Homo sapiens: one gene and its partners. The protein of the gene in region 1 interacts with the protein of each later gene in a biochemical or structural test. Each region holds a gene or a part of one and is shown in the gene's direction. Other genes may lie near its edges.

The links.
Region 2: the proteins of PABPC1 (region 1) and ATXN2 are reported together in a solved structure, tested with the Homo sapiens proteins (2 studies listed by BioGRID and IntAct, with this or other methods).
Region 3: the proteins of PABPC1 (region 1) and EIF4G1 form a complex in vitro, tested with the Homo sapiens proteins (2 studies listed by BioGRID and IntAct, with this or other methods).
Region 4: the proteins of PABPC1 (region 1) and GSPT1 are reported together in a solved structure, tested with the Homo sapiens proteins (3 studies listed by BioGRID and IntAct, with this or other methods).

The regions. Positions count from the first base shown.
Region 1 is NC_000008.11:100,701,882-100,706,209, reverse strand, and holds the end of PABPC1 (polyadenylate-binding protein 1), read left to right. Parts: intron 1-536; coding exon 537-621; intron 622-1,153; coding exon 1,154-1,284; intron 1,285-1,819; coding exon 1,820-1,912; 3' UTR 1,913-1,913; exon of another isoform or gene 1,914-2,850; 3' UTR 2,851-3,294; downstream 3,295-4,328. UniProt on the Homo sapiens protein: Binds the poly(A) tail of mRNA, including that of its own transcript, and regulates processes of mRNA metabolism such as pre-mRNA splicing and mRNA stability.
Region 2 is NC_000012.12:111,592,278-111,597,432, reverse strand, and holds part of ATXN2 (ataxin-2), read left to right. Parts: intron 1-5,155. UniProt on the Homo sapiens protein: Involved in EGFR trafficking, acting as negative regulator of endocytic EGFR internalization at the plasma membrane.
Region 3 is NC_000003.12:184,323,489-184,328,643, forward strand, and holds part of EIF4G1 (eukaryotic translation initiation factor 4 gamma 1), read left to right. Parts: coding exon 1-105; intron 106-291; coding exon 292-489; intron 490-712; coding exon 713-859; intron 860-1,389; coding exon 1,390-1,626; intron 1,627-1,780; coding exon 1,781-1,885; intron 1,886-1,991; coding exon 1,992-2,151; intron 2,152-2,207; exon of another isoform or gene 2,208-2,283; intron 2,284-2,362; coding exon 2,363-2,463; intron 2,464-3,038; coding exon 3,039-3,141; intron 3,142-3,392; coding exon 3,393-3,495; intron 3,496-3,727; coding exon 3,728-3,960; intron 3,961-4,097; coding exon 4,098-4,216; intron 4,217-4,341; coding exon 4,342-4,514; intron 4,515-5,142; coding exon 5,143-5,155.
Region 4 is NC_000016.10:11,884,419-11,889,573, reverse strand, and holds part of GSPT1 (eukaryotic peptide chain release factor GTP-binding subunit ERF3A), read left to right. Parts: intron 1-1,823; coding exon 1,824-2,004; intron 2,005-2,642; coding exon 2,643-2,797; intron 2,798-2,962; coding exon 2,963-3,103; intron 3,104-4,299; coding exon 4,300-4,393; intron 4,394-5,155. UniProt on the Homo sapiens protein: GTPase component of the eRF1-eRF3-GTP ternary complex, a ternary complex that mediates translation termination in response to the termination codons UAA, UAG and UGA.

The DNA.
Region 1 (4,328 bases):
CGAGAAATTCACATCCTAAATCACCACGCCTGGTCTGAAACAACTATTACAAGTAGCTATGGGCCAGGCGTGGTGGCTCACACCTCTATGTAATCCCAGCACTTCAGGAGGCCAAGGCAGGTGGATCACTTGAGGTCAGGAGTTTGAGACCAGCCTGGTCAACAGGGTGAAACCCCAGCTCTAAAAATATAAAGATTAGCCAGGCTTGGTGGCACATGCCTGTAATCCCAGCTACTGGGGAGGCTGAGGCAGGAAAGTTGCTTGAATCCGGAGGCGGAGGTTGCAGCGAGCCAAGATTGTGCCGTTGCATTCCAGCCTGGGCGACAAAGTGAGACTCCATCTCAAAAAGAAAAAAAATGTATCTGTGATACATAGTATATAATAACTACTTTGGCTTCTTTCTAATTCGCTCACTCAACTTCTCCACCTCATGTTTCGATGGAAGTCTACCACTTCAGCAGATGTCCATTGATGACTATTTGTATTTGCCATCTTTTTCTGTGCTTTAAACTTAAGAGTTCTCATTTTCTGTCTAGCCTGCTGTTCATGTACAAGGTCAGGAACCTTTGACTGCTTCCATGTTGGCATCTGCCCCTCCTCAAGAGCAAAAGCAAATGTTGGGTGAGTACTTCTGTCCCACCTTGTCAGTTCAGAAAGACTAGAAAATATAGGAATCACTTAGGCACTAGGTCAATCAATTGACAGCTAGGGCAGTGGAATTGATCTGAATTGGCATGAATGATTATGATAGTACAGTTGGTCTGCCTAATTAAAACCACTGGAAAGCCAATAAGAAAATGTATTGTTAGTAATAAATAGGGTAGTAGGGCATTACTCACCATGGGCCCTCACTACATTTTTGAGAGAAGGAATTTGAAGCAAATGAGAAGAAAACTTGTGACTTTGCCTGAACACCGATTTAACAACCTAATGGTAACATTGCTTAATTGGCAAGCTGATAATATCAAGAGTTAATTGCCTTGTGGCAGATTTTATTCTGTCTTCCCATGAAGACATAATGAAATTGTGGATTATGGGTTATTATATACGTGAGACAGAAGTATGGTTCTTAAACCCCAGTTTAATGTGGTAATTCAATGCAGTTAAAAACTTTTTTTTATTGAAGGGAGTTTTTGAATGTTTCTGTTCCTAGGTGAACGGCTGTTTCCTCTTATTCAAGCCATGCACCCTACTCTTGCTGGTAAAATCACTGGCATGTTGTTGGAGATTGATAATTCAGAACTTCTTCATATGCTCGAGTCTCCAGAGTCACTCCGTTCTAAGGTGATTTAAATTTATTTACCAAGTTGCCTCTTACACAGTTATTACGTGGCTTTTTATGGGGACTTAATTGTACAGAACACTTACATCGTGTTATATATAAGCCATGTACAGTTGTAAAGTCTGCATAATAACCTGTGGCGCTATTTATCCCCATTTTATAGATAGGTAAACTGAAACAGGCTGAATAATTTGCCAAATGCTCACACAGCTCTTAAGTGGCAGAGCCTGGCTTCAAATCCCATCAGCTCCAACAGCCATACTCTCAACTGCTGCTGCTTTCTCTAGTGGAGAAAGAGAAATATTTTTCGAGTGTGGGGAGGACAAGGAAAGAGTAGTGCAGGGGAGCGATTCATAATTCTAGAATAGTGGTGTAATAGAACTCAAAATTGAATGGATATAGTTGTTTAGTGTAACAATTTATACTTTCATTTGAGGGAAGAAACTTATCTTTGTTGGGAATTGGTATGTTACCATTATGAAACTCTTTATTTCCATTCCTTTCCTGAACCAGTTTATCTGTTTTCCCCTTTTTTAGGTTGATGAAGCTGTAGCTGTACTACAAGCCCACCAAGCTAAAGAGGCTGCCCAGAAAGCAGTTAACAGTGCCACCGGTGTTCCAACTGTTTAAAGTGAGCTTTTCCCTCTGGTTTGTTGTTTTAAGCTTGTTTTCTTCATCTTTTATAAAGTTTGTTGAGCATATTTTGAAATGTACATAGCAAAAGATCATTTTACAGTTCATTTAAATGTATTGCTAATTTTTCAAGGAAAAGTGGAACTAACTATAGAGGAATTAAAGGAATTTTACCCGTTAACTGTTGGATTTTTAAAATCCCAGGACTTTCAGGTGGTGTTTTTTTTTTTTTTTTTTTTTGAGATGGAGTTTCGTTCTGTCGCCCAACCTGGAGTGCATTGACGCGATCTCGGCTCACTGCAACCTCCACCTCCCAGGTTCAAGCAATTCTCCTGCCTCGGCCTCCCGAGCAGCTGGGATTAACAGGCCCATGCCTGCCACCGTGCCCAGCTAATTTTTGTATTTTTACTAGACTTGGGGTTTTGCCATGTTGGCCAGGCTGGTCTGGAACTTCTGACCTCAAGTGATCCGCCCACCTCGGCCTCCCAAAGTCTTGAAATTACAGGCGTGAGCCACTGCGCCCTGCCAGATTTTGTATAGTAATATATATATAAAATGACCTGTCACAGGTTGGCTTTCATAGTTTTACCTTTCCTTTTTGGGTGGTGCCCTTGGGTCTCTACTACTGTCTTTCATCACTCCCAAGAAATTGAGTAGTGCAGCCAGGATCAGGACCAGGGATTGGCAAATGTTTTTTGTAAAGGGCCAGATAGGAAATATTTTGGGCTTTGAGGACTGTGTTATCTCTGAAATGATCTTGTTCCAGTGTTACCATGTCAAGACAACCATAGATAGTATGTATACAAATGAACAGGTATGGCTGTGTTCCAGTAAAACTATGGATAAAAACAACCACATTGCATTTGGCTAAGGGCTTTAATTTGCTACTGACAAGTGATAGTCCTGGTCTTAATTTGTTTTTTTAACATTTACAGATTGATCAGGGACCATGAAAAGAAACTTGTGCTTCACCGAAGAAAAATATCTAAACATCGAAAAACTTAAATATTATGGAAAAAAAACATTGCAAAATATAAAATAAATAAAAAAAGGAAAGGAAACTTTGAACCTTATGTACCGAGCAAATGCCAGGTCTAGCAAACATAATGCTAGTCCTAGATTACTTATTGATTTAAAAACAAAAAAACACAAAAAAATAGTAAAATATAAAAACAAATTAATGTTTTATAGACCCTGGGAAAAAGAATTTTCAGCAAAGTACAAAAATTTAAAGCATTCCTTTCTTTAATTTTGTAATTCTTTACTGTGGAATAGCTCAGAATGTCAGTTCTGTTTTAAGTAACAGAATTGATAACTGAGCAAGGAAACGTAATTTGGATTATAAAATTCTTGCTTTAATAAAAATTCCTTAAACAGTGCACGGATTTGCTTTTTTTCAAAGTCTTTATAATTGCCATGCATAAATAGGTAATATCTTAATGGTGCTGAGCCGACATAAGAATCTTTTATGAAAAATGTACTGTTAAGTTCAGGGGGTCTATTGGTTTTATGTAAAAGGCACAAGACAATTCCTGTAGTGCATTTTATGAGTTAAGGTTTCCATACGGATTATTGAAACAATTTGTTACATGTATTTGTTACATGATCTTAATATTTCATGTACAAGACTGACACCCATCCACTTTTGAAGATAAGCCAGTTTATGGGGTTTTTTTTTTTGCGGGTAGAGGTTGGGTCTCCCTATTTTGTCCAGGCTGGTCTCGAATTCCTGGGCTCAAGCATAAGCATAAGGCTTATTCCTGCATAAGCCACCATGCCTGGCCTGCCAGTTGATGATTATATTGAGGTTTCTAGGCTATGAGATTATTAGCTTAAACCCTTACATGATATAAAACAATGATAGCTACTCTTGAAGAGGATGTAGATAAGATAGGCTTTGGTATGATTTTAATATTAAAGTGTTAAAAGTTATGATTAGTTTTAAACCTTATTCTTGTAACGTCTTTAATTTGGTAGTTCATGATTGTGGCTTAATTTTAGTGTAATACCCAAAGTACTTGTTAAAGGTGAAGATGTGGGGTTCTTTTAGGAGGATGGATTTAGAAGATCTAGCCTGGAGTATAGGGTATCTGCATAAAACTGATAACCCAGGCAGTTTACACTTTTAGGTTTTAATTTCTAACCGATCATTCTCTGTGGACTACTGCTAGAGTTAGCTTTCTAAGTTAAACGTGTGGTTATCTCATTCCATGCTAAACAAACAATTCTATTAACCTTCGGGATTAAATAAATCTAAACAAAACCCTAGCTTGTGACAGTGGCAGCCCTCAATGCTGATGAAGCCTAGTGATGCTTCTGTACCTAGAATGCTTTTCGCTTTGGCTTCTTGTTTTGAAACTCAAGATAATACAAACTCCACCCTCCTACCCTTTAGCATAGAACAGTGCATCCA
Region 2 (5,155 bases), on another chromosome or scaffold:
CTGTGCCTTCTTTAGGCCTAGGCCGCCGGCTTGACGGCGGGTGACCGGCGTCCTCCTTAAATAGGCATCTTGGGCTTTGGAAGGTGGAATAAGAGGATTTTTCATTCACCCGAGTTTTCTTTTTGAAAACACATTTTCAGCAACCCATTTCCAAAGAATTTTTATTTACAGCAGAAATTCCCCATCAAGAGGAATCAGCTGGTTTTTAAGGAATTCTGCTGCCTTCAAAGGGGGCGGAAACAGTCGGTTATTTGACTTTACACGCCCCGCCCCCCCTTCCCCTTCTCTGAGTCTGAAGCATCCCAAACACTACTTAGCCAAACTAGTTCAGATGAAGTGATCGTTTCCCCAAGTAGGGTAACTTCAGTTTCCCTTTTTCGTTGGCATCTAGCGAAAAATGAAAAAATTTAAAATACAACTTTTATAGAAAAGGATGTATTCTGTTTTTACTTTCTTAGGTATTAGGAAGAGATTTGGCAGATAATTCAACATGTTCAAATATATAAACATTAAAACTAAGGTTATTAAGTTGCATTGACTACTAGGCTTAAAAATTAGATTATAAGAGAATTTGCTCCTGAGTAGTTTGAGTGATCAAAGATATTTGGAATGTTTTAGTACCACAAGGTCTTTTTTCTGTTCCTTGAGGCTTTACAACAATTTAAGGTTAATTTAGATTTTTCCTTGCTTTAAGTTCTTTTACTTGAGACCTAAATGGCAGCCCTTATTCTTTCTGATGAATAGGTGAAATTTTGTTTACTGTGTTGGATTTGTGTAATGTGAAGTTTTATTCTTGAACAGATCGTTAATGTACTTGTAGAATTACTTTGAATTTGAATCACTTTCCTGCATTCCTTGTAAATAAGTTTCAGCTTCTAGAATCTCCTCACTTAGGTTTGTGCGTATCAACAGTGAAAATAAGTCTCTGAGAGCAAGGGTGAAAAAAAATGCAGCATTCGGTTTGACAAGTTTCGAGATAGCAAAATATGCTTGAAAGTCTGGAAATTCACATCTGCTTTAAGAAACATTTCATAATTTGACTTTGTGTGTGTGTGTGTGAATAGTTTTTCATGACTTTCAGAAGTGATTTATTTTGTTCTTTGTTATATATATTTTTGAAGGTGGCTGTTTTAGGAAAGATAATGTAATCACAATATTAGAACATAATTTTACTGTAATCTAATTTTGTGTGTGTGTGTGTGTGTGTGTGTGTGTGTGTGTGTGTGTTTTGGATGGAATCTCACTCTGTCGCCCAGGCTGGAGTGCAGTGGCCTGATCTCAGCTTACTGCAGTCTCTGTCTCCTGGGTTCATTTAAGTGATTCTCCAGCCTCAGCCTCCCCAGTAGCTGGGATTACAGGTTCGTGCTACCACACCTGGCTAATTTTTTTGTATTTTTAGTGAGGACGGGATTTTGCCATGTTGGCCAGGCTGGTCTCGAACTCCTGACCTCAAGTGATCCGCCTGCCTTGGCCTCCCAAAGTGCTGGGATTACAGGCGTGAGCTACTGCCCCTGGCCAATTTTTGTATTTTTAGTAGAGATGGGGTTTCACCATGTTGGCCAGGCTGGTCTCGAACTCCTCCTGACCTCAAGTGATTCGCCAGCCTCGGCCTCCCAAAGTGCCAGGATTACAGGCAGGAATGAGCCACTGCCCCCAACCATCAGTCTAATTCTTATTTTTGCTTTTTACCTTTTCATTTTTATGTAGTAGAGGTGATTGTGTATGTTATTTTGTAGTTAGCTTTTTTCCCCTGAACGTTGTATTGTAAATGTAAATTTTTTTTTTTTTTTTTGAGACAGAGTCTCGGTGTTTGCCCAGTCTGAAGTGCAGTGGTACGATCTCAGCTCACTGCAGCCTCTGACTCCTGGGTTCAAGCGATTCTCCCACCTCAGCCTCTTGAGTAGCTGGGGCTACAGGAATGTTCCACCACGCTTGGCTAATTTTTGTATTTTTGGTAGAGACAAGGTTTCACCATGTTGGCCAGTTTGGTCTCGTACTACCGACCTCAGGTGATGCGCCCGCCTCGGCCTCCCAAAGTGCTGGGATTGCAGGCGTGAGCCACTGCGCCCGGCTGTAAGGTTTTTACTTAACCATTCTATTGTTGGGAATTGGGTTTCCACTTTTTTGTTATAGATAGTGGTGCAGTGAACATTTTTAAATAGCTTTTTGCTTCAGTGTAATTATTTCCTTAGAGAAAGTTACCAAGAGTGGTTTTACTAGTTCAGAGGGCTTCAGGATTTTTATGGCTCTTGCTAGCGGTGCTCTATTATTCTTTAGAAGACTTGTATTACTTCCAGTGTCAAGAAGGTTGCTCTTCCATGGAATGGTTTCTTTGTAGTTTGTCAAATATTGTGGGGAATTTTTAAAGGAAAAATTGCATTTTTACTGTCAAGTGCATATATTATTAAGTGCTTTTGTTAGTTACTGGATTATTGATATTTGAGTTTAATTTGGTTCCTCTGAGGATTTAATAAGGTAATATATGTGAAGATGTTTTGAAACCTGTAACCATTATTATTAATGAGGGTACTTGGTTTATCTGTCGTGCTGATAGTACTGAGTAAAGTGCAGGAATGAAATTCCTGAGGAACTGTTCTAAAGCTTTGTTGTTGTTGTTAACCTTTCTTTTTCATCTGAAAGTGTTTTTTATTAGCTGCTAGCCTATGACCAAGTTATTTTTGGTAACTTTTTTGTAATTTCATGGCACTATTGGGAATTTTCGCTGGTTGACTCTTCTTCTTCTACATTCCCTTCCCCATTAAAAATAAAAATATGGATTTACAATTGTTACTCTATTCCTAAACCTAAATAATATGACATTAGAATTGCTTGGGATACAGGATTCAGTCTGAATAAAATATTTTTCTTTTAGTGATTTTCAGCTTAGTATTTTTACTGCTTCTTTCTCTTGAGGCATTGCAACTTAAAAATTGTGCTGTTTAGCCAGGCGCCTGTAATCCCAGCTACTTGGGAGGCTGAGGCAGGAGCATCACTTGAGCCCAGGAGGCGGAGGTTGCAGTCAGCTGAGATTGTGCCACTGCACTCCAGCCTGGGAGACAGAGTGAGACTCTATCTCAAAAAAAAAAAAAATGTGCTGTGATTTAATGTAGTTGTTCATCATGCTTCCATTTAAATTTCAGTGAGACTGTTCATCTTTTGCAGTTAAATATCTTGTAGAAGGGCCTAAAATATCTACGTTGAATACAGCTTTATTGAAGCATCTATGTACATGGGGTTTTTGGGATGAATCAGTGAATAAAGCAAACATATTGTCCTTTTGGAGTTTACATTCTAATGTGACTAGGCAGACAATGAGACATTAAATTACCAGCCTATGTATAATAGTGTATAAGAGCTATGGAATTAGAAGAAAGCAGATTAAAGGTATAGGGAGTGTGGGGAGGGGAATGAGTTACAATTTTAAATGGATTGGGGGAACTTAATTGAGGAGCTAACATTTGAGCAAAGATTTGAAGGTTGGGTATTTAGCCGTTTGCTTTTTATCTAGGTTAATTAGTCATGTGGCTTCATTAGTAATTTATAAGGTTTAAATGGCATCATCCTTTGTTATTCTTTTATGTGCACATTGATACTAACCATCTCTGAAGTTAGACCAAAAAAGTTAATTGACATTGAGGGTCATTAGAGGTAAATTGTAGATGGCTATTACTAACCAAAGAGACATGTTTTGTTTTTCTTTTGGGCTTACGTATTTTACCTAATTAGTTTAGTTTTTGTTTCAAGTATGTGGAGAAAATAAACTTTTTAAGTTTGGGCCAAAACTTGCTTTGGTTTTCTTTTTCTTTTTCTTTTTTTTTTTTTAAGAGAAAAATGTAAGCCTGTAGTTGCTTAAAGATTCCACATTCTGAAACAGTGAAAACATGGGATCAGTCATGGTGTTCCTTTTTTTGGTTAAATGTAAACTTGTATTTTCAGTGTTACTCTAATTAGCAATGGTTTATACTTCTACATAAGGGATGTTAACTCATATTGTAGCTATTTAATAGCCATATATTTTGACTTAAAGGAGGATCTCAAGGCCAGGCGCGGTGGCTCATACCTGTAATCCCAGCACTTTAGGAGGCTGAGGCGGGTGGATCACCTGGGGTCAGGAGTTTGAGACTAGTCTGGCCAACATGGTGAAACCCCCATCTCTACTAAAAATACAAAAATTAGCCGGGCATGGTGGTGGGCGCCTGTAATCCCAGCTTCTTGGGAGGCTGAGGGAAGAGAATTGCTTGATCCCGGAGGTTGCAATGAGTGCGGAGGTTGCAGTGAGCTGAGATCATGCCATTACACTCCAGCCTGGGCAACAGAGCGAGACTCTGTCTCAAAACAAACAAACAAACAAAAAAAGGAGGATCTCATTTTTTTGTCCTAAATAGCTACAGCCGTGTTAGAACTGTCACCTTAGCAAAGTATTGTTTTTTTACTTTGAAACGAATTTTAAGGTTTTAGAAGATTGTTCTCTAGAATTACAATTTTCTGTTTTGACTAGTGATAGTATTTTGATGTTGTGTAAATAGTTGAGCATGAACAAAACCCTATTTTTTTTTTTAGCTATTTCAAGTGATTGTGACAACTTCAACGGAGATGTAAACAGTTTATTAACAGTCACACCTATTATCTTTTTTTTTTTTTTTTTTTTTTGAGACGGAGTCTTGCTCTGTCGCCCAGGCTGGAGTGCAGTGGCACGATCTCTGCTTACTGCAACCTTTGCCTCCCGGGTTCAAGTGATTCTCCTGCCTCAGCCTCCTGAGTAGCTGGGTCTACATGCGCACACCACCACGCCTGGCTAATTTTTGTATTTTTAGTAGAGACAGGGTTTCACCATGTTGGCTAGAATGGTCTCAAACTCCTGACCTCAGGTGATCCACCTGCCTCAGCCTCCCAAAGTTCTGGGATTACAGGCATGAGCCACCGTGCTTGGCCGCTGCCGTATCTTTTTAAATGAAAGTACTTGTGTTTTTTTTGTTTTTTTCCAAAGGATATCTGGGTCATCTATGATGTTACTGTTACCATCTAAGGGTTTTTTTGTTTGTTTTTGAGACAGAGTCTCTGTCGCCCAGGCTGGAGTGCAGTGGCGTGATCTTGGCTCACTGCAACCTCCGCCTCCCAGGTTCAAGCAATTCTCCTGCCTTAGCCCTCCCGAATA
Region 3 (5,155 bases), on another chromosome or scaffold:
GATATAAAACTGAACAAAGCAGAGAAAGCCTGGAAACCCAGCAGCAAGCGGACGGCGGCTGATAAGGATCGAGGGGAAGAAGATGCTGATGGCAGCAAAACCCAGGTACTGGCAAGTCCTGCTTTTGGTCTCTCTCCATTTCTTCTCCAGGTCTGCCATCTGTGCCCTCTTTGCTTCTTTTTGTCCTTATCACTAGCATCTGTCATGCCTAAGTCCCCACCACCCTCTCCTGTCCCTCCCAACAGCCTGTTCTGAGACCCTCACTGGAACTCTTGTCTCTTCTCCCTCCAGGACCTATTCCGCAGGGTGCGCTCCATCCTGAATAAACTGACACCCCAGATGTTCCAGCAGCTGATGAAGCAAGTGACGCAGCTGGCCATCGACACCGAGGAACGCCTCAAAGGGGTCATTGACCTCATTTTTGAGAAGGCCATTTCAGAGCCCAACTTCTCTGTGGCCTATGCCAACATGTGCCGCTGCCTCATGGCGGTTAGTTTCCAGTGGGTTCTAAATCTAATGGTCTGGTTGCCCATTCCTATTCCCAAGACTCCTTGAGTCCAGCTTCTTGGTTCCCCTCCAACTTGTGCCTCTTCCAGCTGGAAGGAGGCAGAGCTGGGGCCAGAGATCTTCCTGGGTCAGGTAGTTAAAGGCTCTTGGAGGGCCTTCCCTGCCCAGGACTAGTCTTGAGTGTGACATTCTCTCTGACCTACAGCTGAAAGTGCCCACTACGGAAAAGCCAACAGTGACTGTGAACTTCCGAAAGCTGTTGTTGAATCGATGTCAGAAGGAGTTTGAGAAAGACAAAGATGATGATGAGGTTTTTGAGAAGAAGCAAAAAGAGATGGATGAAGCTGCTACGGTGAGAGAAAACCCACTATCGATTCCACTCACCACTTACCTCCTTCCCTTACCCAGATGCTACTCAGCTGTAGAATTTGGAATGGAGGTAGTGGTGTCTTGGGGATTTCTCTGGCTCAGGACGTTTTTTTTCCTTTTTGAGACAGTCTTGCTCTGTCACCCAGGCTGGAGTGCAGTGGTGTGATCTTGGCTAGCCTCCACCTCCTGAGTTCAAGCGATTCTCCTGCCTCAGCCTCCCAAGTAGCTGGGATTACAGGCATGTGCCACCATACCTGGCTAATTTTTTTGTATTTTTAATAGAGACGGGGTTTTACCATGTTGGCCAAGCTGGTCTCAAACTCCTCCTGACCTCAAGTGATCCGCCTGCCTCAGCCTCCCAAATTGATGGGATTACAGGCATGAGCCACTATGCCCAGCCAGCCGGCCTCAGGACTGAGTGCTTATTGCTAGGTTTGGATATCCAGGTAGAAAAGGGTTTTAGCCGAGTGGCTGGTTATCTTTTTGACACAATCCCTGTCCTGTGAATGGCAGGCAGAGGAACGAGGACGCCTGAAGGAAGAGCTGGAAGAGGCTCGGGACATAGCCCGGCGGCGCTCTTTAGGGAATATCAAGTTTATTGGAGAGTTGTTCAAACTGAAGATGTTAACAGAGGCAATAATGCATGACTGTGTGGTCAAACTGCTTAAGAACCATGATGAAGAGTCCCTTGAGTGCCTTTGTCGTCTGCTCACCACCATTGGCAAAGACCTGGACTTTGAAAAAGCCAAGGTAGAGGTCCTTGCATCTGGAGGGGGATGGGCTGAAGCATATGTGGGGCTCACTGAGCCCACAATGATGGGGCGGAAGGCCTGAGGAGGGGTGGGGCCTGCAGTTATAGGTGGGACATGAGAAGTTCCTGGTCTGATGCCTTTCTCCTTCCTAGCCCCGAATGGATCAGTATTTCAACCAGATGGAAAAAATCATTAAAGAAAAGAAGACGTCATCCCGCATCCGCTTTATGCTGCAGGACGTGCTGGATCTGCGAGGGGTGTGTGTCCCCCTCCTCCCCACTGCCAGCCTGCTGCCTCCAGTTTCTGACACTGCCTTGTCTTGCCTTCCCTGACATCATCGTGACTGGCCCTCTGTCTCCACAGAGCAATTGGGTGCCACGCCGAGGGGATCAGGGTCCCAAGACCATTGACCAGATCCATAAGGAGGCTGAGATGGAAGAACATCGAGAGCACATCAAAGTGCAGCAGCTCATGGCCAAGGGCAGTGACAAGCGTCGGGGCGGTCCTCCAGGCCCTCCCATCAGTGAGTTCCAAGCTGGGATTGAGAAGGGAGCAGTGAAGGGACCGGGAGGTTATACTTTCCTCTGATGACTTCCTGTTAGTGCCACGTGTCTGGGCCACTGAGACACCATGATGGAACTGAGGATCTGAGGAAGGGAGGCTGGGGGTGGCCCAAGGGGAAGGGGCTGCTAGGATTTATTCATTATTCCAGTATGCCCCTCTTTTTGTGTCAGGCCGTGGACTTCCCCTTGTGGATGATGGTGGCTGGAACACAGTTCCCATCAGCAAAGGTAGCCGCCCCATTGACACCTCACGACTCACCAAGATCACCAAGGTAGGGGTGTGTGTGGGAGTGGGTGATTCAGCTCAGGTTTAGATCTTAGTCCCTTCACTTTTCTAAAGTTGAGAAGGTGACAGCTGAATGTTTCCTCTTAGACTAACTGGTTGGATTGCTGGAGACAGGACTGCCAGCTGTAGAGGGAGGGTGGTACTCCCATTAGTCTGGACCAGTGTTTGGCAAACACACACACACACACACACACACACACACACGTGCCAGATCCAGCCCATTCATACATCCCAGGACCCAGTAGTGGTTTTTACATTTTAAAGTTGCGAAAAATCAAAAAGTGAATGGTAATTTATGCTGTGGAAATTAAATAAAATGTAAATGTCAGTGTCCATGAAGTTTTATTGGAACACAGTCACAGCATGCCTTTATCATCTACAGCTGGTTTCATGCTACTGTGGCAGAATTGAGTAGTTGCAATAGAGACTGGCCCTTTATTAAAAAAGATTTTCTGACCCCTGGACTGGGCCATTCACTACCTGTTTGGTTGCATATGGTGGTGCTGGCCAAGGGACTCAGCCGGGTTGGACCTATGATTCTACTCCCCTTTTCTTCTTCAGCCTGGCTCCATCGATTCTAACAACCAGCTCTTTGCACCTGGAGGGCGACTGAGCTGGGGCAAGGGCAGCAGCGGAGGCTCAGGAGCCAAGCCCTCAGACGCAGGTATGGAGGCAGTGTCAGGAGCTGGGTGGTTACCCGTCAGAGCTCCCTTGAGGACAGAGCCTTTTCTGTTAGGGAGGCCTTCAGTACAAGGTGGTTAGGCAATGCGGGCAATAGAGGAGGTTTGTGTTGTGGTTCCAGGGATTGAACTGCTTTACTTTTGGGACTGGGACCAAGTGTCCTAAACTGGCAAGTAGGGGATAAAATGCAGGAAAGGAGAAAAAGATTTTAATACGGATTTTCTGCATCCCCAGCATCAGAAGCTGCTCGCCCAGCTACTAGTACTTTGAATCGCTTCTCAGCCCTTCAACAAGCGGTACCCACAGAAAGCACAGATAATAGACGTGTGGTGCAGAGGTGAGGTTTCCTGGACATCTTTGTTATTCACACTGGGGGTACCGTGATTGGGTTCTGGTTGTTGCCATAGGTTGGAAATTTCTTCATACCTGTCCTGGTTGGAGCCCTTGGGTTAGATTGGGGCATACTCATTATGCTAAGAACAAGGCCCAACAGTTGCTCAGCATGTTGTGTAATTACATGAGTGCCTGGGCAGTGCAAGTGAGTGAAAATTTGTCTGTCTGTCTTCCAGGAGTAGCTTGAGCCGAGAACGAGGCGAGAAAGCTGGAGACCGAGGAGACCGCCTAGAGCGGAGTGAACGGGGAGGGGACCGTGGGGACCGGCTTGATCGTGCGCGGACACCTGCTACCAAGCGGAGCTTCAGCAAGGAAGTGGAGGAGCGGAGTAGAGAACGGCCCTCCCAGCCTGAGGGGCTGCGCAAGGCAGCTAGCCTCACGGAGGATCGGGACCGTGGGCGGGATGCCGGTGAGAGTCTGGGAGAGGAATGGAGGGAAAGGCATTGGCTGCCTTGGGACTAGCTGGTCCCCAGCTTTTTGAGAGCTCCAAATCTTGTTTGCTGGGAAGACTGAAAAGTCCCTCTAATCTGTGTTCTCTTCCCACAGTGAAGCGAGAAGCTGCCCTACCCCCAGTGAGCCCCCTGAAGGCGGCTCTCTCTGAGGAGGAGTTAGAGAAGAAATCCAAGGCTATCATTGAGGAATATCTCCATCTCAATGACATGAAAGTAGGCAGTGGGAGCGGCGTGTGATTGAGGAGTGGGCAGGGAGGGATCATGCTGGCAGGCATAGGGGTCCGGGGTCTGGGTCAGACAGTGACTGGTCTCTTCCTGCTGTGCCCTGCACCCCTCAGGAGGCAGTCCAGTGCGTGCAGGAGCTGGCCTCACCCTCCTTGCTCTTCATCTTTGTACGGCATGGTGTCGAGTCTACGCTGGAGCGCAGTGCCATTGCTCGTGAGCATATGGGGCAGCTGCTGCACCAGCTGCTCTGTGCTGGGCATCTGTCTACTGCTCAGTACTACCAAGGGTATGACCAGCTTCTCTGGGCCTCCCACTTATACAGACCCACAATTTTCTATCTCCTTTTTGGGACCCTTGGAACCTTGCATAAGAGTGTAGGTTCCCTGGCCGGGTGTGGTGGCTTATGCCTGTAATCCCTGCACTTTGGGAGGCCAAGGTGGGTTGGATTCCTTAGAGGATCACGTGAGGTTGGGAGTTCTAGACCAGCCTGGCCAACATGGTGAAACCCTGTCTCTACTAATAATACAAAAATTAGCCAGGCGTGGTGGCACAGTAATCCCAGCTACTCGGAGGCTGAGGCAGGAGAACTGCTTGAACCCGGGAGGTGGAGGTTGCAGTGAGCCGAGATCGTGCCATTGCACTCCAGCCTGGGTGACAAAAGCAAAACTGTCTCAAAAAAAAAACCAAAAAACAGTATGGGTTCCTTGACCATCCTGGTCAGCATAACTTTAGGGGGTTAAGCGGGGTGAAAACCATCTAAGGACACAGAGGTGGCCTTAGCTTGAAATAATTGTCCCCATGTCTAGAAAATGTTCCTGGGGGTTCCATAGTTGATGCCCTAGCCATGCCACGTTGCCCCAGAAGGAGAGTGGGGACCTGGCCTAGAATGTCTTGACTTTGAATTCCCTTGGCAGGTTGTATGAAATC
Region 4 (5,155 bases), on another chromosome or scaffold:
ATGGTGCTGCTGCACTCCAGCCTGGGCAACAAGAGCTAAACTCCATCTCAAAAAATATATATACAAAAAGTAGCCGGGCGTGGTGGTGGGCACCTGTAATCCCAGCTACTTGGGAGGCTGAGGCAGGAGAATAGCTGGAACCTGGGAAGCAGAGGTTGCAGTGAGCCGAGATGGTGCCACTGCACTCCAACCTGGCCAGAGCAAGACTCCCATCTCCAAAAAAAAAAAAAAAAAAAAAAAAAAAGAAGAAGAGGGGTGGGGGTGCCGGGCACGACCTAGGCTCTGTTGCCCAGGCTGGAGTGTAGTGGCTCCATCTCCACTCACTGCAAGCTCCACCTCCTGGGTTCACACCATTCTCCTGCTTCAGCCTCCCAAGTAGCTGGGACTACAGGCACCCGCCACCACGCCTGGCTAATTTTTTGTATTTTTAGTAGAGACAGGGTTTCACCGTGTTAGCTACGATGGTCTCAATCTCCTGACCTTGTGATCTGCCTGCCTCAGCCTCCTAGAATGCTGAAATTACAGGCGTGAGCCACAGCATCCATCCAAAAAAGTTTTATTATTACCCTTTAACTCTCAAGACAGCCATTATTTGTGTTGTATTTTGTGCCATGTGAGTATAAAAATGAAGTAATAAGGGAGCTCATTATCACTTAACACACAGTGATATTGGCATTTGTAGTTAGTCTTTCTGTGTAGTCAACTTGCCATAAAGTTCTAGATGGTATAATTGACTGCGTTTATATAAAAGCTCTAAGGGTTTGAATCAAAATAATACATTCTTTCAGTTTTATTTTATTTATTTATTTTTTTGAGACGGAGTCTCACTGTGTCACCAGGCTGGAGTGCAGTGGCGCGATCTCAGCTCACTGCAACCTCCGCCTCCTGGGTTCAAGCGATTCTCCTGCCTCAGCCTCCCGAGTAGCTGGGACTACAGGCGCCCGCCACCATGCCCAGCTAATTTTTGTATTTTTAGTAGAGATGGGGTCTCACCATGTTGGCCAGGATGGTCTCAATCTCTTGACCTCAGGTGATCCGCCTGCCTTGGCCTCCCAAAGTGCTTGGATTACAAGCATGAGCCACTGCACCTAGCCCTTTTTTTTTTTTTTTGAGAGACAGAGTCTCCCTCTGTTGCCCAGCCTGGAGTGCGATGGCACGATCTTGGCTCACTGCAACCTCTACCTCCCAGCTTCAAGCGATTGTCCTGCCTCAGCTTTCGAAATAGCTGTGACTACAGGTGTGCACCACTATGCCCAACTTTTGTATTTTTAGTAGAGATGAGGTTTCATCATATTAGCCAGGCTAGTCTCGAACTCCTGACCTCAGGTGATCTGCCAGCCTCGGCCTCCCAAAGTGCTGGGATTACAGGCGTGAGCCACTGCGCCCAGCCCTATTCTTTCAATTTCTTTGTTTTCTTTTGAGACGGAGCCTTGCTCTGTCGCCCAGGCTGGAGTGCAATGGCACGGTCTTGGCTCGCTGCAACCTCCTCCTCCCAGGTTCAAGCGATTCTCCTGCCTCAGTCTCCTAAGTACTACAGGTGGGCTCCTCCACACCCAGCTAATTTTTGTATTTTCGGTAGAGACAGGGCTTCACCATGTTGGTCAGGCTGGTGTCGAACCCCTGACCTTGTGATCCGCCGCCTTGGCCTCCCAAAGTGCTCAGATTACAGATGTGAGCCACCGCACCCGGCTCAATTTTCATTTCACCAATCTTGTTCGTGATTTAGGTGTTGTGTGTCATCCATTATATCTTTAATGGTGAAGAATATCCTAAAAACTCTGATGTTCTTAGGAATATTGTTCTTTTTTTAAAAATTATTTCAGGTACTTGTCTTGGGCCTTAGACACAAATCAGGAAGAACGAGACAAGGGTAAAACAGTAGAAGTGGGTCGTGCCTATTTTGAAACCGAAAAGAAGCATTTCACAATTCTAGATGCCCCTGGCCACAAGAGTTTTGTCCCAAATATGATTGGTGGTGCCTCTCAAGCTGATTTGGCTGTGCTGGTAAGAAAGACATTTCCAGTCCATCTGTATATTTGTTAGTAGCCCCGCTTATATCTTTAAATTTGAATTTATCTTCTAAAAGCTCAAATTCAGGTTGCAGTGAAATATAATGATGTACACGGTCACAGTTTTCATCATACTAATCTCTCTTCAAGAAATCTTCAAAATTTGATTTACTTCTGAAAATACGTTTCACCTTTTCTCTCCTGTTGCTATTATCTATTACCATGTCAGAACTTAGTCTCCATTAAATGCCAAGCCCACCGTTAGGCACCATGGGTAAAAAATGAATAGGAAACCATCTGTTTCATACGGTCTTCAGTCATTTTGCGCTTTTCACAATGTACTGGTAGTAGATCACAATTTTTTTTCCTTTGTAGTTACAATAGCTAGAAAGTAAATGTTGGAATTTTAAAATATGCAGGTATACTAGATTTTGGGAATGTGGGGGATTGGAAGCATCTAGACATTGTTTGATTTGTGACATTCAAAAGCAGGTACGTCATAACTCGTTTGCTTCTATTTTCTTGCAAAAAAAAAAAAAAAAACTCGTGATATAACTGAAAGGAAAGATGTTTTACTGCCATAAGGGTATGCCTGAAGGCGAAGGAGTAAACTGTTTCCTTTCTTGGAATTAGGTAATCTCAGCCAGGAAAGGAGAGTTTGAAACTGGATTTGAAAAAGGAGGACAGACAAGAGAACATGCAATGTTGGCAAAGACAGCAGGTGTAAAACACCTAATTGTGCTAATTAATAAGATGGATGATCCAACAGTAAATTGGAGCAATGAGAGGTGAGCGTAGATGTCTGGTATTTTATGTTAGTGGGATTAAGGATGGTTTTGTTATTGTACGACTTTTTCTCTAGGGTTTTTCTAAACCTTAATCTGTTTACTTAGGAAACTAGAGTTCTTGGTTTACATTATAATTGAGTTATTTTGGTTACATTATAATTGCAGATATGAAGAATGTAAGGAGAAACTAGTGCCATTTTTGAAAAAAGTTGGCTTCAATCCCAAAAAGGACATTCACTTTATGCCCTGCTCAGGACTTACTGGAGCAAATCTCAAAGAGCAGTCGGATTTCTGTCCTTGGTACATGTAAGTAACTGTTTTTTCCTTTTTTTAAAAAGGAAAAGGATGTTATTACTTAAATTACTTATAAAGACATATGCTGAGTAACATGTTAACATATGCTTTTGAGCATATATCTTTATAAGTAATTTAAGAAAATATTAAATGTAACCTTGGCTTTAAAAATACTAAGATCTTTGCCCATTTTTAAACTGGGTTGTCATTTTGTTACTGAGTCCTAAGAGTTCTTTTTAATACTGGCTACCAGTCCCTTATCAGCTACAATATGATTATAGCAAGTATTTTCTCCCACTTTATGGATTGCCTTTTTTCACTTCTCGATGGTGTCCTTTGAAGCACAAAAGGTTTTATTTTTGAAGTTTTTTACATTTAGATATGTATTTGATTTTGAGTTAACTTTTGTGTAAGATGTAAGGTCTATGTGTAGGTTTGTTTTGTTTTTGTATATTAATTGTTTACACACAATTTGTTGAAAAGACTATTCTTTTTTCATTGAATTGATTTGGCTCCCTCTTTGAAAATCAAATGACCATAAATACGAGTTTATTCTTGAACTCCGTGTTTCTTTTTTTTGGTTTGTTTTTTTGAAACAGGTTTTCACTCTGTTAACCAGGCTGGAGTGCAGTGGCATGATCTCGGCTCACTGCAACCTCTGCCTCCCAGCTCAAGAGATCCTCCCACCTCAGCCTCCCAAGTCGTAGGGACTGTAGGCACATGCCACCGCACCCGGCTGATTTTTGTATTTTTAGTAGAGACAGATTCACCATGTTGCCCAGGCTGGTGTCGAACTCCTGGGCTCAAGAGATGCACCTGCCTTTCGGCCTCCCAAAGTGCTGGGATTATAGGCATGAGCCACTGCACGCAGCCAATACTGTATGTTTAAAGGGGAAATTATTTTATAGAATCTTGGTTTCATAGCTGGAAAAGTCCATAAAAAGTAATATAGTCAATTTATTACATGTAGGCTATTTGCTATAAAATATTTCTCTAAATTTTAATAAGTTTATGAGGAAGCCTTATACTGAGCAGTTTTATAATAGTTTTCTGTGGAATAAGTGAGATGAAATGGATAATAAAGTGGTTGAATGGGAAGAATACATGAGTAGAATGAAAATATTATTAGAAGCTGTTTATAGTCATGTAACTTAACATTTTGATATTTATGTTGACTTCCTTTAATGGCTTTGTTGTTATGTTCTCAGTGGATTACCGTTTATTCCATATCTGGATAATTTGCCGAACTTCAATAGATCAGTTGATGGACCAATCAGGCTGCCAATTGTGGATAAGTACAAGGTACCCAAAATGTTAAAGAAATTGGGTTTCCTGGGAGGGGAAATCATTGTTGTGCATTTTGTTTCTAGTTTTGAAAACTTTTTTTCTTTTCTTTTCTTTCTTGTTTTTTTTTTGACAGAATCTTGCACTCTGTCCCCCAGGCTGGAGTGCAGTGGCGCGATCTCAGCTCACTGCAAGCTCTGCCTCCTTGGTTCAAGTGATTCTCCTGCCTCAGCCTCCTGAGTAGCTAGGACTACAGGCTCCCGCCACCACGCCCAGCTAATTTTTTATATTTTTAGTAGAGACGGGGTTTCACTGTGTCAGCCAGGATGGTCTCGATCTCCTGACCTTGTGATCCACCTGCCTCGGCCTCCCCCAAGGTGCTGGGATTACAGGCGTGAGCCACCGTACCTGGCCTTCTTTTTTTTTTTTTTTTTTGAGACGGAGTCTCACTCTGTCACCCAGGCTAGAGTGCAGTGGTGTGATGTCAGCTCACTGCAACCTCTGCCTCCCAGGTTCAAGAGATTCTCCAGCCTCAGCCTCCTGAGTAGCTGGGACTACAGGCGTGTGCCACCGCATCCAGCTAATTGTTTTTTGTATTTTTAGTAGAGACCGGTTTTCACCATGTTGGCCAGGCTGGTCTCGAACTCCTAACCTCAGGTGATCCGCCCGCCTTGGCTTCCCAAAGTGCTGGGCTTACAGGCATGAGCCACCATGCCCGGTCCAAAAACTTTATTAACAACATAACATTGATGTCTTTTTCTTAATGGCTTTATATTAGTG